Homo sapiens: one gene and its partner. The protein of the gene in region 1 interacts with the protein of each later gene in a pairwise test. Each region holds a gene or a part of one and is shown on either strand. Other genes may lie near its edges.

The links.
Region 2: the proteins of GUCA1ANB-GUCA1A (region 1) and KATNAL1 interact in binary tests that used the Homo sapiens proteins (3 or more experiments, as listed by UniProt).

Annotation. Positions count from the first base shown.
Region 1 is NC_000006.12:42,158,132-42,165,405, forward strand, and holds part of GUCA1ANB-GUCA1A (guanylyl cyclase-activating protein 1), read left to right. Parts: intron 1-4,788; coding exon of another isoform or gene 4,789-5,118; exon of another isoform or gene 5,119-5,335; intron 5,336-7,274. Other genes in the region: CIMIP3 (ciliary microtubule inner protein 3), read left to right, coding at 4,789-5,118. UniProt on the Homo sapiens protein: Stimulates retinal guanylyl cyclase when free calcium ions concentration is low and inhibits guanylyl cyclase when free calcium ions concentration is elevated.
Region 2 is NC_000013.11:30,206,423-30,213,696, forward strand, and holds part of KATNAL1 (katanin p60 ATPase-containing subunit A-like 1), read right to left. Parts: intron 4,021-7,274; coding exon 3,894-4,020; intron 2,317-3,893; coding exon 2,118-2,316; 3' UTR 1-2,117. UniProt on the Homo sapiens protein: Regulates microtubule dynamics in Sertoli cells, a process that is essential for spermiogenesis and male fertility. Severs microtubules in an ATP-dependent manner, promoting rapid reorganization of cellular microtubule arrays.

The DNA of each region.
Region 1 (7,274 bases):
AGCACACTTGACGAGGAGCATGTGAGCAAAGAATAGCCAGTTAAAAGAAACCAGATGTTAACCTGGAAAGTATGCAGTCAGGCCCCACCCTCAGCCAGAGCTGGCTCTGCTAGGCCCTGGGGGAGGTAATGGGGTGTCCTCAGCCCTCTGAGGTTAGTCACTTGGAGGCTGGCTTGGCCCCTAGAAAGGGCAGGGGAGGGCTAGTGCTGCCTGACTCCCTCTTCCTCCTCTTCCACCTCTTCCCCTAGACTGTCTGTGTCCCAGTTTTTGTGAGGGCTTCATCCCTGGATGTTCCGGGGACCCTGGCTGTCCCCTACCCCTGCTGCCCCCAGAGTCCTGTATGTTGCAGCAGCAGCATTCTAAACACAGCCGAGGTGTGGACCCAGGGCAGGTGGGCCCAAGCCAGGGCCTGGGCTAGGGCAGAAAGGGAGGAGAGAGTTTGAATCCTGGTTCCCACACTAACCAGTTGTGGGACTTCTGCAAGTTACTTACATGCTATTCTACAAACTGTGAACTCAGAAAAATGCTTTGATGCCTCCGAGCCTCAGTTTCCTTATCTGAAAAATGGAGGCAATGTCTCAAATGGCTCTTAGGAGCTTTTGCAGAGCTGAGTGGCTAATGCCTGACATTTGGCAGATCCTCAATCCTGTGAGTAAAGAGTGCCACCCTTCCATCTGTGGGCTGCTCTCTTCAGTTCCCCAGCCATTCTAAAAGCACCTGCCTCTGTCACCCCTGGCCCCAACCCCATGAGCCCAAGATGGCCAAGAGGCTGATGCAGCCTTGGGGCTGAAGGGTTAGTGGGGAGCAGGGATGGGGGGTGGGGTATCTGCAGCTCCCTCATCTTCATGGCCCTTCTGTGGCGTCAGGAGGACAAAACCCACATGCTTAGACACATCCTTAACACAAAGAAACCTAAGCCGCTTCTTGCAGCCCAGGAAAGGACGCATTCTCCAGGCCAGGATGTCAGCCTCTACCAAGGATAAAGAGATTGCCATGGGTCCTATAGCACTGATTGTCACTGCCCTCAGGGGACATTGGGCGATGACTGGAGACATTTTTGTTGTCACGACTGGGAGAAGGTGCTACTGGCATCTGGTGGGTAGAAGCCACCACTGTAATTCTGCAAGACACAAGACAACCCCTCTAACAAAGATTGTCCAGCCCAAAGAGGCAGAGGTACCAAGGCTGAGCCACTGTACTCCACAGGGACCCTCTTGTGCTCAGTCGTGGTGTCTTTGTCACCTTCACACCAAGAGCCTGGCATCCAAGAGGTGCCCAGGAATGGTTGTGAATGAACGAATGAAGCAACTCATGTCCTATCCTCAGCTCTGCTAAGAGATGGTGATTCATGGTGTAGACCTCACACTTCCCAGTGTGTTGTTCTGTCCATGCAGGGTCCAAGAACCCAGAGCCCAAATCCAGCAGTCAAAATCCCACAGTGTTCTTGCCAGACTGGGAAATCTGGCTGCCCCGCCCTCCAGTGAGCCGGAAGCTGTGCAGGGCAGCCTTGGCTAATCACCTGCCACCCAGCACACCTGGCAGGAGCTCAGTGGGTTGATGAAATGAGGACAGAAAGAAATAGAAGATCCACAGGCCCCTGGCAGGCCCTGCTCACATACCACAGTGGGCACAAGACACGTCATGGAGCACAGGGTGTGGAAAGACCTGGGTTCAAATCCCAGCCTTGCTCCTCACCAGTCATGTGACCCTGGACAGGGGACTGACCTCTTCAGTTTTTGTCAATTACAAGTGGGGCTAATAATAGTAACACCTTCCTCAAAGGGTTAATGTGAGGATTAGAAGAGGTAATCCACTGACAGGGTTTGGTGCGGTGCTACAGACTGAAGTGGAAAAGAATCTTTTGTTTTTTTTGAGATGGGGTCATGCTCTGTCACCCAGGCTGGAGTGCAGTGGTGTGATCACAGCTCACTGCAGCCTCGACCTCCTGGGTTCAAGCCATCCTCCTGCCTCAACCTCCTGAGTGGCTAGGACCATAGGTGCATGCCACCATGCCTGGCTAATTTTTAATTTTTTTTTTATAGAGACAAGGTCTCCCCATGTTGCCCAGGCTGGTCTTGAACTCTGGGCCTCAAGTGATCCTCCCACTTCAGCCTCTCAAAGTGTTGGGATTACAGGTGTGATCCACTGCACCTGGCTAGAAAACAATCTTTGATGACCACTATCACAGTTCATTTCCAGTGCTTGCCCCTCTGCCTATAAGCCCCTGTGCCCTGGGGCTGAGCCTGGAAGAGTCTGGGAAGGCTGTAGAACACTTGCTCATTTCTTGTGGCTGTGCATCAGCACTGGGGTAGGCTCTAGGGAAAAAGAGATGCATAGAACGCAGTCCTGACTGCTGGAGCCGTTTACAGCCTGTTGGGACTTTAGCAAAGGACTATACTGGGACTAAGATGAGACGAGACTGCAGCAAGCGGTCCCAGTGCACTTGTAGGACTCTGAATGACAACTTCTTCAAAATGTGTGTGCCTGACTCACCTTAGTCCCTCCAGCGAAGGAGCACATCCTGAGAGGGGTCCAGAAGGCACAGAAGAGGACAAGATGGGACAGGGGCTGCAGGAGTCTTCAGTGGTTCCTGGAGAAGGTTTCAAGTCTGCTGCTGAACTTGGAAGAATAGGAAGAATTTCAAAAACTGCAAATTTGCAAAACTGAGGGCACATTTATACCTGGGTAGGAACCAATAGGAACAAAGCCTGCTTTGGAGGAAAGCCCTGGACAAGTTTGGGCTGGGCAGATAGTTTGTAAATTAAACCCAGAGGAGGCCGGGTGAAGTGGCTCATGCCTGTAATCCCAGCACTTTGGGAGGCTGAGGCGGGCGGATCACCTGAGGTCGGGAGTTTGAGACCATCCTGACAAATGTGGAGAAAACCCATCTCTACTGAAAATACAAAATTAGCCTGGTGTGGTGGCGCATGCCTGTAATCCCACCTACTCGGGAGGGTGAGGCAGGAGAATTGCTTGAACCCAGGAGGTGGGGATTGCAGTGAGCTGAGATTGCATCCTTGCACTTCAGCCTGGGTAACAAGAGCGAAACTCCATCTCAAAAAACAAAAAACAAAACAAAACACAGAGGAAATACATCATGATTTGAGCAAAGGAGACTTCTTTTGTAAGAGGGCAGGAGCTCAACTTCCACTAACCCTGTACCTAGGGGTTCTCTCACAGTGCCTAGAGGCTGGAGGGCTGTGAGGCTGGGGGAGAGGAAATGGATTCCCCTGACCGCTGAAGCCTGGGGGAGCAGAATAGATCCAGCCTGACACACACGCAGGATGGATGATTGCCTACAGATGCTTCATCCTTTGGTGGTGCTGTCACGGTGAGGACAGTCCCTAGTAAAATGTACAGCTGGTACCTGAAACGTGGTGTGGGGATTTGAAGGTGAACAGGATAGCTTGGTCACAGGAAGGGTAGTGACAGAGGAATAAATAAATGTCAATGTGAGGCGCTAAATGTGTCAATGGGGGCCTCCTAGAGATTGAGTAGACCCCAATAAGTAATCAACCAAGAGTGGTGGTTAGGACGAGGTAGGTATGGGTGAGTAGGAGACACATTTGGTAACAATGAGATATGTTATAAAATAGAATGGGCTGGCTGGCTGGAAAGTGAGCGGGTACCCCTTACTAGAATTCAGTTCAATTGATCCAGCATTTATCAAGCTTTCTCTAAATGCATTCTTCTGGAGTAAAACAGTAAATAGGATTTTGGAGGCTGTTATGTCAAGGGTAAGAGTATGAGATAGTTGCCCTCAAGGAGCTGAAACTCTAATGGGAAAGACAGAATTTCCCTAGTGCACAGGAGGGAGAGCACGCAAGGCTGGGGAACACCTGAGCCAAGGTACAGGCTCTGGAAGTACCGGATGTGAGCAGGGAACAAGAGGTAGACTGTGTGGCTGAAATGCTGGGTAGGTGGAGGGATGGAGGGACTGGAGAGTGGAAGCCACATTCTTTTTTTTTTTTTTTTTTTTTTTTTTTTTTGAGACACAGTAGGCTGGACGCAGTGGCTCACGCCTGTTATCCCAGCACTTTGGGAGGCCGAGGCGGGTGAATCACCTGAGGTCAGGAGTTTGAGACCAGCCTGGCCAACATGGTGAAACCCCATCTGTACTAAAAATACAAAAATTAGCCGGGCGTGGTGGCGGGTGCCTGTAATCCCAGCTTACTCAGGAGGCTGAGGCAGAAGAATCGCTTGAACCCAGGAGGCGGAGGTTGCAGTGAGCCGAGATCGTGCCATTGTACTCCAGCCTGGGCAACAAGAGCGAAACTCTTTTTTTTTTTTTTTGAGATGGAGTCTCGCTCTGTGAGTGTGAAGCACAGCGTGACCAAGTAGGAGGGTGGGAGACAGGAAGCCCTGGTGGAGGGCAAGCTGGAGGGGCCCCACAGGATAGAGAGGTCGAAGGCCTGACGGAGCAGTGGCAGGGAAGAGGGAGGGGAGGGCCACACAGGAGCCAGGCCAAGGACACGGACAGACGATTGGATGCAGGGAAGGGGGGTGGGGAGGGACTGAAGATAATCCCCAGGTTCCTAGCCTCTGGGAGCTGGCAGTTGCCTCTGGTAGGTAGGCAGAGTTCTGCAGCAGCAGGGGGCCAGGTCAGGGGACCCTGATGGCTCTCCCCTGCTCTGGAGGTCCCTGGCTCCATGGTCAGCACAGCAGTGCTCCAGAGTGGCTCTGGGGGCTTCTGAGCAGTGGCTCTTTCTCCTCCCTTCTGCCCCTGGCATAGCAGTTGAAGTCCCAGTATCCAATGCCTCAGCTCTCCCCTTCTTTCCCCCCTCCCAGGACTCACAGAAACCCTCTGTACCCAGTCATGGGCCAAAGACACCGTCATGCAAGGGGGTGAAGGCTCCACACTCGTCCCGGCCCCGGGCGTGGAAGCAGGACCTCGAGCAGTCTCTGGCAGCAGCCTATGTGCCGGTCGTTGTGGACTCTAAGGGGCAGAATCCGGACAAGCTCAGGTTCAATTTCTACACCTCCCAGTACTCCAACTCCCTGAACCCCTTCTACACTTTGCAGAAGCCTACCTGTGGCTACCTGTACCGCCGGGACACTGACCACACCCGCAAGCGCTTTGATGTGCCTCCTGCCAACTTGGTCTTGTGGCGCTCCTAGGCCTGAGCCAAACGGAAGCCCCCGACCCTTCACCCTCACCCCTGTGACCTCAGGTCCCCAAGGGGAAGGGCTGCTCACTGCAGGAGGAGTGACCTATATTCGGGCTAAGACAGCTGTGCCATGCCCACCTATTGACAATGATAAAGGGAGGTCTCTCTTCTCAGCAGCAGTTAAAGTTTGTCCTTCCTTTCCCTGGCATCTGAATGGGTGGCTGTGGGTAGGTAAACAGGCCATGGGGATGTTATACAGTAAGGTTATGTCCAGAGGTTTCTGAAGACTTGGAAGGACTTGATTCTCAGTTCCCTAACCCCAAAAGTAACCTCAACCCTTCTCCAGAGCTGAGTCCCAAGCAAAGCCCATCCTAGCTCCAGCCTCCCGATGGTCCAGGCTCGGACCCCTCCAAGGAAGAGAGGGTGGGTGTGGTGGCTCACACCTGTAATCCCAGCACTTCAGGAGGCCAAGGTGGGCAGATCACCTGAGGTCAGGAGTTCAAGACCAGCCTGGCCAACATGGTGAAACCCCGTCTCTACAAAAATTAGCCAGGCATGATGGCAGGTGCCTATAATCCCAGCTACTCGGGAGACTAAGGAATGAGAATCCCTTGAAGCCAGGAGGCAGAGGTTGCAGTGAGCCGAAATCATGCCATTGCACTCCAGCCTGGGTGACAGAGTAAGACTCCGTCAAAAAAAAAAAATTAATTTAAAAAAAGGAAGAGATCCATCAACTGGCCATGACTCCTGCTCTCTTACAAGGTCATCTTACCCTGGTTGGAGCAGCTGCTGCAGAATGAGGAAGAATGCAGGGAATGAACACAGACTCTAGGTCCCCTCCCAGACCCAGTTTTACATAAAGCTGCTGCTTCTGACTTGTAGTTTGTTGGTGGGGGAAGGATTTCCCATCCTTGCCGTCTCCTCTGGTCTAGAAGAGCTGGCTCTGAGGCTAGTTGAGCTCATGGGTCATGGGGCATGGAAGAGGGGGATGGAGGCAGAGGGCACTGGATTCACAGCAGGGGCCTGAGTGAGTTCCCAGTCACTGCCATTCAGAGGGAACCCCAGTGGTGTGCTGGAGCCAGCTTGTACTGACTTGTAAGAGCTGGTTGTGCCCATGTCTTCCCTACTCCACAATCAGTGATTTCTTTTTTTTTTTTTTTTGAGACGGAGTCTCGCTCTGTCGCCCGGGCTGGAGTGCAGTGGCGTGATCTCAGCTCAGTGCAAGCTCCGCTTCCCGGGTTCACGCCATTCTCCTGCCTCAGCCTCCTGAGTAGCTGGGACTACAGGTGCCCGCCACCACACCCGGCTATTTTTTTTTTTTTTTTTTGTATATTTAGTAGAGATGGGGTTTCACCATGTTAGCCAGGATGGTCTTGATCTCCTGACCTTGTGATCTGCCCACCTCGGCCTCCCAAAGTGCTGGGATTACAGGTGTGAGCCACCGCACCCGGCCCACAATCAGTGACTTCCTGTTGGCAGTTTGGAATCAGCTGTGGTGGGAGCATTTACACCACAGAAGTGAGCAAATGCCTACAAATTGGAGTTTCTTTTTTCCAGAGAGCTCATCATTAAACATTTACCAGCACACCACAGGGTGAATTCAGCTGGTTTCATTCCTAGGAGTCTCGTCCCTCTGTAGGTATGGTGGTGTATTCTGTGGGGCATAATTCCTGTGCAGGAGAGGTTGGGGTTGGTGTGGGAAGGAGAGACAGGTGTCCAGAGACCCCGACAAGCAGCCCACAACAAGGCCAGGCTGTCCTGTGGGCCTTTCTTTGAGAAGATGGTAAGCAGTGTGGAGGGAAGTGGAGACCCCTCGAGGCGACCCTAACAGCATAGAATCCGCGTTTTCCTCTTGGCTTGCTGTAGGCTCTCTTTTGAGTTAGAGGTTTTCCTCAAATGCCTGATGAGCCTTGGCTGGCCTCAGACCATCTGGCATCTGTACCAGGTCTCTCCTTCTGCTTGGTCATCAGTGTTCAAGGAGCCAGCCACGGGAATGAGCTGGGGTGGGGGAAGGCGCATGGTGGTTTTCTCACTGTCCATATGTAGACTTTCTTTTAACGCTCCATTTATAGAATGGCACATGTCTCTTCCTGAGGCTGTGCCTAGAGACTAGCGGCTCTCTGGCCCAAATCTCCAGAAGAACCTTCAATCAGGGTCAGGAGGGGA
Region 2 (7,274 bases), on another chromosome or scaffold:
AAAAGCACACCTGACTCACTTAACATAGTAAAGTTAGGCTCCCAGGAAGTTTAAGTTGCCAAATACTGCTTAACTGGTATTAAAAGAATCACAATTACTATGTCATTATCCATGAAGAATTCAGAAAAATAATTAAATGCACACCAAGATAATCAATACAAAACCCAGAAAAGGTCTAACTAATCAACTATTGTTAGGCTGGTGCAAAAGTAATTGCGGTTTTTGCCATTGAAAGTAATGGAAAAACCACAATTACTTTTGCACCAACCCATTACAAACAAGTTTTAACAATCACAAGACTAATGTTTTAGTGACGGCTCCTAAAACTTCAGGGAAAAAAAAAGTGCATTTCTGACTGGCAATAGTTTGCAAAATAATCGTAATGAAACTACTTATTTCTTTATTTTAAAAGTTAATAAAAGGAAACCTCTCAATTTTTAGGAAGAATTCAATTACAATAAAATCATGATGTCTTATGATCTGGCATCTTATAATCTGTGTCTCAGAAAGAAGGGCAATTTACAGCATCAGATGAATACTGGAGTTTAGGTCAGACTTAAGTTATCTGAAAAGAACATAAGGCATTTACAGTTTTTAGCAGGGAAAAATAATCAAATCTCTTTTTTTAAAAAAAACCTTCTTAGTATCTTGGTTAAATGTCCAAAAAGCTGTATTATTTTTAGTTTTAAACCAGTAGGCACTATTCGAAACTGAGAATTCAGGATGTTATCAAATACAAATTTTTAAAAGCTTGACCATTAAAGCATAAATTGCCTAATGAGACACATGTAATCATAAAAACTAACGCCAGGATCATTTACTTGTGATTGGATATATGCCATTTATTTTTCTGGCTTCTTTCTAATGTGTAATTCCTGCTGAATTGAGTGAGCATGTCAGATTTCTATCTTTATCTTAGTGTGTGTAAAAGTTCTCAACCTAGACAAGGACAAATTTTAGAATTTTCCAATGAACATCATTCACTATGTATGATGCTGTTTTGTTAAACTAGCTGTTTGGAAAACAATAAAGATTTCATTTGTTTTGCGTTAGCCACAGAGAGTGGACTTGTTTAGAATGTAAAAGTATTTATCTCAAATACTAAAATCAAACTCAAGAAAAATCAAACAATGCTGGAGCTGAGAAAAATAATGGCTATATATCTGGTTGAACATGTTGAAAGAAAAGTGAAAACACAGCCAGGCATGGTGGTGCGCACCTGTAATCCCAGCTACTTGGGAGGCTGAGACAGGAGAATTGCTTGAATCTAGGAGGCAGAGGTTGCAGTGAGCCAAGATCAACCACTGCACTACACAGCCTGGGTGACACAGACTCCTTCACGCACACACAAAAAAGTGAAAACAAACTTGGAAGTCTAGAATGAAGAATTACATCTAATGCAGTAATATTCTTCCCACCTTTCCATATTAAATGTAAGAAGCACCAGCAAAAAATACTAAAGACAGAGAAATGACCTGGCAAAATGATTCAAATACCACAGAGCGTGAGAATATTCCTCAGTAAAGCTCAAGATATTATGAAGTAGCTAGCAGAAGAAATGGCAGGGGTAGCGGAAGTAAAAATTCTAACCATATGACAGACTCTAACAGTAAGTCATAAATTCTAAAGGTTTAATTAGTAAATTCATTATTTCCTCCAAAATATACTGTCATTCTTCTCTTAACAATGAATGTTTGACACAAATCCAATTTTGATGTTAAAAGTCAACATACATAGATAGGTCCCTCATGTTGACAGAGCACAGAATTGGAAAAAAAAACTGCAAATGAGAAATAGGGGTATTTCTAAATCTTCTGTATTCCTAAAATATCACACTGCGCCCTTGCTTCAGCCTCCCTGATAGACTGGTTTGGGTGTGCAATATTAATGCAGGAATACGTGGAATACCAGCACAAAGCCGGGGAGGGAGACTAGCAAACTCTCGCCATCAATTATTTCTCAACTACATTTAGTATTCTTCGCAGTTTTAGATTTTTTTTTCCTTTAAGCGAAAACCACTCCACTGAAAAAAATTCCAAACTTGTTTTTTAAAAATTGCAGGAATTTCTTCGTATTTTATCAACAAAAATACCAGAAATTAAAGAGCTGACAGAAATTCAAGCAGATCCAAATTCAACCATCCATTTTTCATACTTCTCCAAGTCTGCAGCAGAGACAGACTTAGCAATTTTCTTTAGGGCCAATTCAAAGTCTCCTTTGGTAACAGGCATCTGAAGTTCCTCTTTAGAAAGTGCACGGATTTCTTCTGGACTTAAGCCATTGATACGCCGTCTCATTGCCATTAAAGAGGCATCCCTAAAAATATACCAAAATCAGTCAACAGTAATTTTTGCACATGTTTTAAACACTTTCAATTGTAACAAAGTTATGAAAAAAAAATCAAAAGATTATTTTATATGTTTTTATGAGGCTTCTTAGAATTTTCCACTTAAGAAACATCCTGGGGGTTCAGCAGAAGTTAAGACAGGATGCAAACAACCAAAAACATGAAATGTATAGTTAACGAACCCTAAAAGTCTAAGTTAAGCTCGAATAGTACTGAATTTTCTTTTCTCCACTTGCTCCTCAAAGACAGCCAAGAAGTTTAGGAAACTGAAGTCAAATTTTGAAATACTGAATTGTACACTTGGAAATGAACATATGGCTAATGTTAAGATAATTCAAACCACAGACCAGTTTGTCTACAGCCTAAATAGAGGAATAAAGACACGAATCACTCCCTCTGAAACATGAATATCCACATATAGTGGACATGGAATTCCCTACATGGAGTATTTGTAGGCAACTGAAGGCATAAACTCTGGCTTCTCTTGATCCCATGTGCAGCTCTCTTTGACCAACTATAAATAAATATGAAGGTCTGGAAGAAAAGGATAATTCATAATCACAAAAAAGCTATTAGGAAGGCCAAGCCAACAAAAATGTCAAGTTCTTAAATATTTTGCTATAGTAGCAGTAGGAACTATTGCAACCTTATTGTATGCCACTAAACTTGGATGCACATGGGAAAAATGCGAGCAGAAAAGGTGAGAAAAACAGATGCTGTGGCTTTAAAGAAAGGCTACTAAAGTCAATTTAAGTGCAGTTAGAAAAATAAGAAAAAAAATAACTGCAGTGACAGGAACTGTCTAAAACTTATGATGTCGCTAAACTGAAAAAATTTTAAACGTGTATCTTCCCCAGCTTACGCTGATCATTTTTGCTCATTTGCATGTGTTTAAATAATGCCAACAAAAACTAAATAATATTACTTTAGGTTGATGCAGAAAGGCTCCAACACAAAGCTAAACTAATCTTAGGTTGTCAAAGTCATTATTATCGAGTTAGACACAATAATTTCTTTTTTTTTCTTTTTTGAGACAGAGTCTCGCTCTGTTGCCCAGGTTGGAGTGCAGTGGCGCGATCTCGGCTCACTGCAAGCTCCACCTCCCGGGTTCATGCCATTCTCCTGCCTCAGCCTCCCGAGTAGCTGGAACTACAGGTGTCCGCCACCACACCTGGCTAATTTTTTGTATTTTTTAGTAGAGGCGGGGTTTCACCGTGTTAGCCAGGATGGTCTCGATCTCCTGACCTCGTGATCCACCCGCCTCGGCCTCCCAAAGTGCTGGGATTAGAGGCGTAAGCCACCGACACAACAATTTCTTAAAAATCCAAAGATCAAAAACATCAACGACCACTGCTATATAATTTTCATCTCACAATGAAAAATAAAGTTATATGTAAAAAAAAAGGGACAAATGGGAAACCATTTTAAAGAAATGGGTAGCTGCTTTCATGTCTAACTACACTGGGCTAACTACATTGACTTTAAGACCAGTCCTCCTGCGAAGTCTATAACTAATGTCTAAAATCACAGATCATTAAAAAAATACCTGCAAACATTAGTGATGTCAGCACCAGAATAGCCCTCAATCTTCTCGGCTATATCTTCCAGTTGAATATCAGGATCTAATTCGACCTCACGAAGGTTGATCTTCAGAAGCTCAGCTCTTCCTTTTGCTGTTACAAGATTTTGGTGGTGTTGTTAGATGTTTTACTTTACAAATAATTTTGCTGAGAAATGACATATTAACATTTGGGGGAAAAATGAGGCCAATGCAAAGAAGAGTCAATAACTGTGTGTCCATTAGTATTATTACCAATTCACTGCATGACTCATGGAATCATTTAAATTCCTATGTGCCTCTGTTGCAGTAACTAAAAATTGAAAAAAAAAAAAAAAAAAAACACCAAAAACCACCTAGGTTTTCTTTAAAGACTGTGAAGATACCTACTATGAGAACAAAGAATCTGAGATTCTTCATGAAAAATATAAATATCAGTTTTCAAGCACCGGAAATGCTTCTCAAAAAAAAAATACTTAGCCTGGTGTTACAAAATTACACTGCATCAAGTGTAACTCCTATGAATTACTTTGCTCACCTGTTAGTATGACATGGATCTCCAGAACTCTTATCAGTAGTTTAAAGAACATTTCCTGAAAATCAGTAATTGGCACAAAAAGCTCATTAATGTATTTTTTACTTGGAGAGCCAGCCCACAGACATTTGCTGTTCCAGTATGATTTAAATGTGAACTGAATAAGTTCAAACATACTAGAGAATTTTTAAAATAACCAATCATGCTTGCCATTTCACTAGTGCTTTTAGTGGCAAATCTGCTTAGCACAGCACACTAAGATAATGCATTACTAGTTTATCTGGCGCTCTACTATTTCCTGAGATACAAAATGAAATTTAATTTTCTTCTACTTTTATTTTGAAAAATGCCATATATACAGGAAAAGAAAATCAATGAATACCCATTTCCCTTTCACTGAGATTCACCAATTGCTAACATTTTGCCATTATCACTCTAGCTGGCTCGTCATCTCTCCTCCCTCAACTTTTTGAATTGAGCGCTAGCTGCAGGCATCACAACACTTCACCTTAAATTCCCCAGCATGTATCTCCTAAGAAAAAAGGTAGACATAGCATTTCTCACCCTTATCAGGAGATTTAATACTGGAATATTAGTGTCTAATACACAATTCAAAGCAAAGTTTCCCTATTTGTCCCAAGCCTTTATAACTTTTACAAACCATAACACATTGCAGTCAGTTACTATGTCTCATTCACCTTCTTTCATCTAAAACAGTTCCCCAGTGTTTACTTTTTGGTTCATTTTGTTTTGTCTTTCATGAAATTGACAATTCTCCCCCAATTGATCTTATACAGCCAAAGCATTCCAATAAAGATCCTCCTAAAAGGTCTATCTGTAAAAACTAACGGGCAGATACCAAAATGTTCACAGAAATGGAAAGAACCAAGAACAGCCAAGATGCTCTGGAAGAGCAACAGCAAAGTGGAAAGAAATGCTCTATCAGATTTTAAGACTTACTACAAAGGTATAGGACTCAAAGCAGTGTGACCCTCTTGTGGAAATAGACAAATAGATCAATAGTACAGAACGGGGTGCCCAGCAGCAGACCGAAGCATAATTACAGACACTGAATTTATGACAGAGGTGGTTCAGGCCGTGAGGGGAAGGAGTGTCTTTTCAATTAATGATGTAAGAACAGCTGACTATCCACAGGGAAAAAAATGAAATCAGGTCCTACATCATACTGTGCACAAAAATCAGTGCCAGATATATTACATCTAAATGCAAAGTTGTAAGTATTTTATAACAGAGAAGAATATCTCAATGACCTCAGGGAAGTATTCTCAAGACATATATTCAAAAAAAATCAACAAGGAAAAGATTGATAAACTGACCACATTAAAATGAGGAACTTCTATTCATCAAAAGATACTGTCGACACAGTGAAAACAGATAAGTTACAGAGTTTGAGAAGATATTTGTAACATATATAAGCAACCAAAGACTTGTATCAAGAATATTTAAGGAATTTCTAAAAATCAGCAAGAAAAAGTCAGACTACCCAATAGCCAGCGTGCCTGGCAATGCACAGTGGCCGGACCCTGGTGCTTGCTTGCTCATGCACCCCTCACCACTCTGTGCCTGGCTTGCCCTTGGCCGGCGTGGGATCAGGGCCAGTAGCTCCAGCCGAGCTCAGCCTGCCAGGCCCAGTGGTCAGAACGCTGGGCTCAAGCAAAACTCCAGCAAAGGTGCCACCAAGGATCCTGCAACACAAGCACTTTGGAAAACATATTGAATTCATCTATTAATACTGCAGCTGTGCGGCACTACCTAGCAATTCACTCCTAGGATGGAATGCTCCATTCTGGCATTCTTACCACTATACATGTATGAAAATGTTCACAGTAGCACTGTTCATAATAGCCTAAAACAAGAAATAATTAAAATGTCCACCAAACAATATGATGGATACATTTTGATATAATCACATAATAGATGGTATGGGTTAAACCATGTCCCTCAAAATTTTTAGGCAACTCCTAACCCCCAGTACTTCAGAATGTGACTGTATTTAGAGACAGGAGAGGTAATTAAGGTAAAATGAGGTCATATGGGTGGGCTCTAATCCAACATGACTGGTGTCCTTATAAGAAGAAGCGGTTAGGACACAAAAACCCCTAAGGGGAAGACCACATGAAGACGCCGGGACAAGATGGCCACCTATAGGCCAAGGAGAGAGGCCCCAGAGTGCAACCACCCTGCCTACACCTTGGTCTTGTACTTCTAGCTTCCGGTACTATGAGAAAATACAAACTACCATCAGAGAATACTACAAACACCTCTACGCAAATAAACTAGAAAATCTAGAAGAAATGGATAAATTCCTCGACACATACACCCTCCCAAGACTAAACCAGGAAGAAGTTGAATCTCTGAATAGACCAATAACAGGAGCTGAAATTGTGGCAATAATCAATAGCTTACCAACCAAAAAGAGTCCAGGACCAGATGGATTCATAGCCGAATTCCACCAGAGGTACAAGGAGGAACTGGTACCATTCCTTCTGAAACTATTCCAATCAATAGAAAAAGAGGGAATCCTCCCTAACTCATTTTATGAGGCCAGCATCATCCTGATACCAAAGCCGGGCAGAGACACACCCAAAAAAGAGAATTTTAGACCAATATCCTTGATGAACATTGATGCAAAAATCCTCAATAAAATACTGGCAAACCGAATCCAGCAGCACATCTAAAAGCTTATCCACCATGATCAAATGGGCTTCAACCCTGGGATGCAAGGCTGGTTCAACATACACAAATCAATAAATGTAATCCAGCATATAAACAGAACCATAGACAAAAACCACATGATTATCTCAATAGATGCA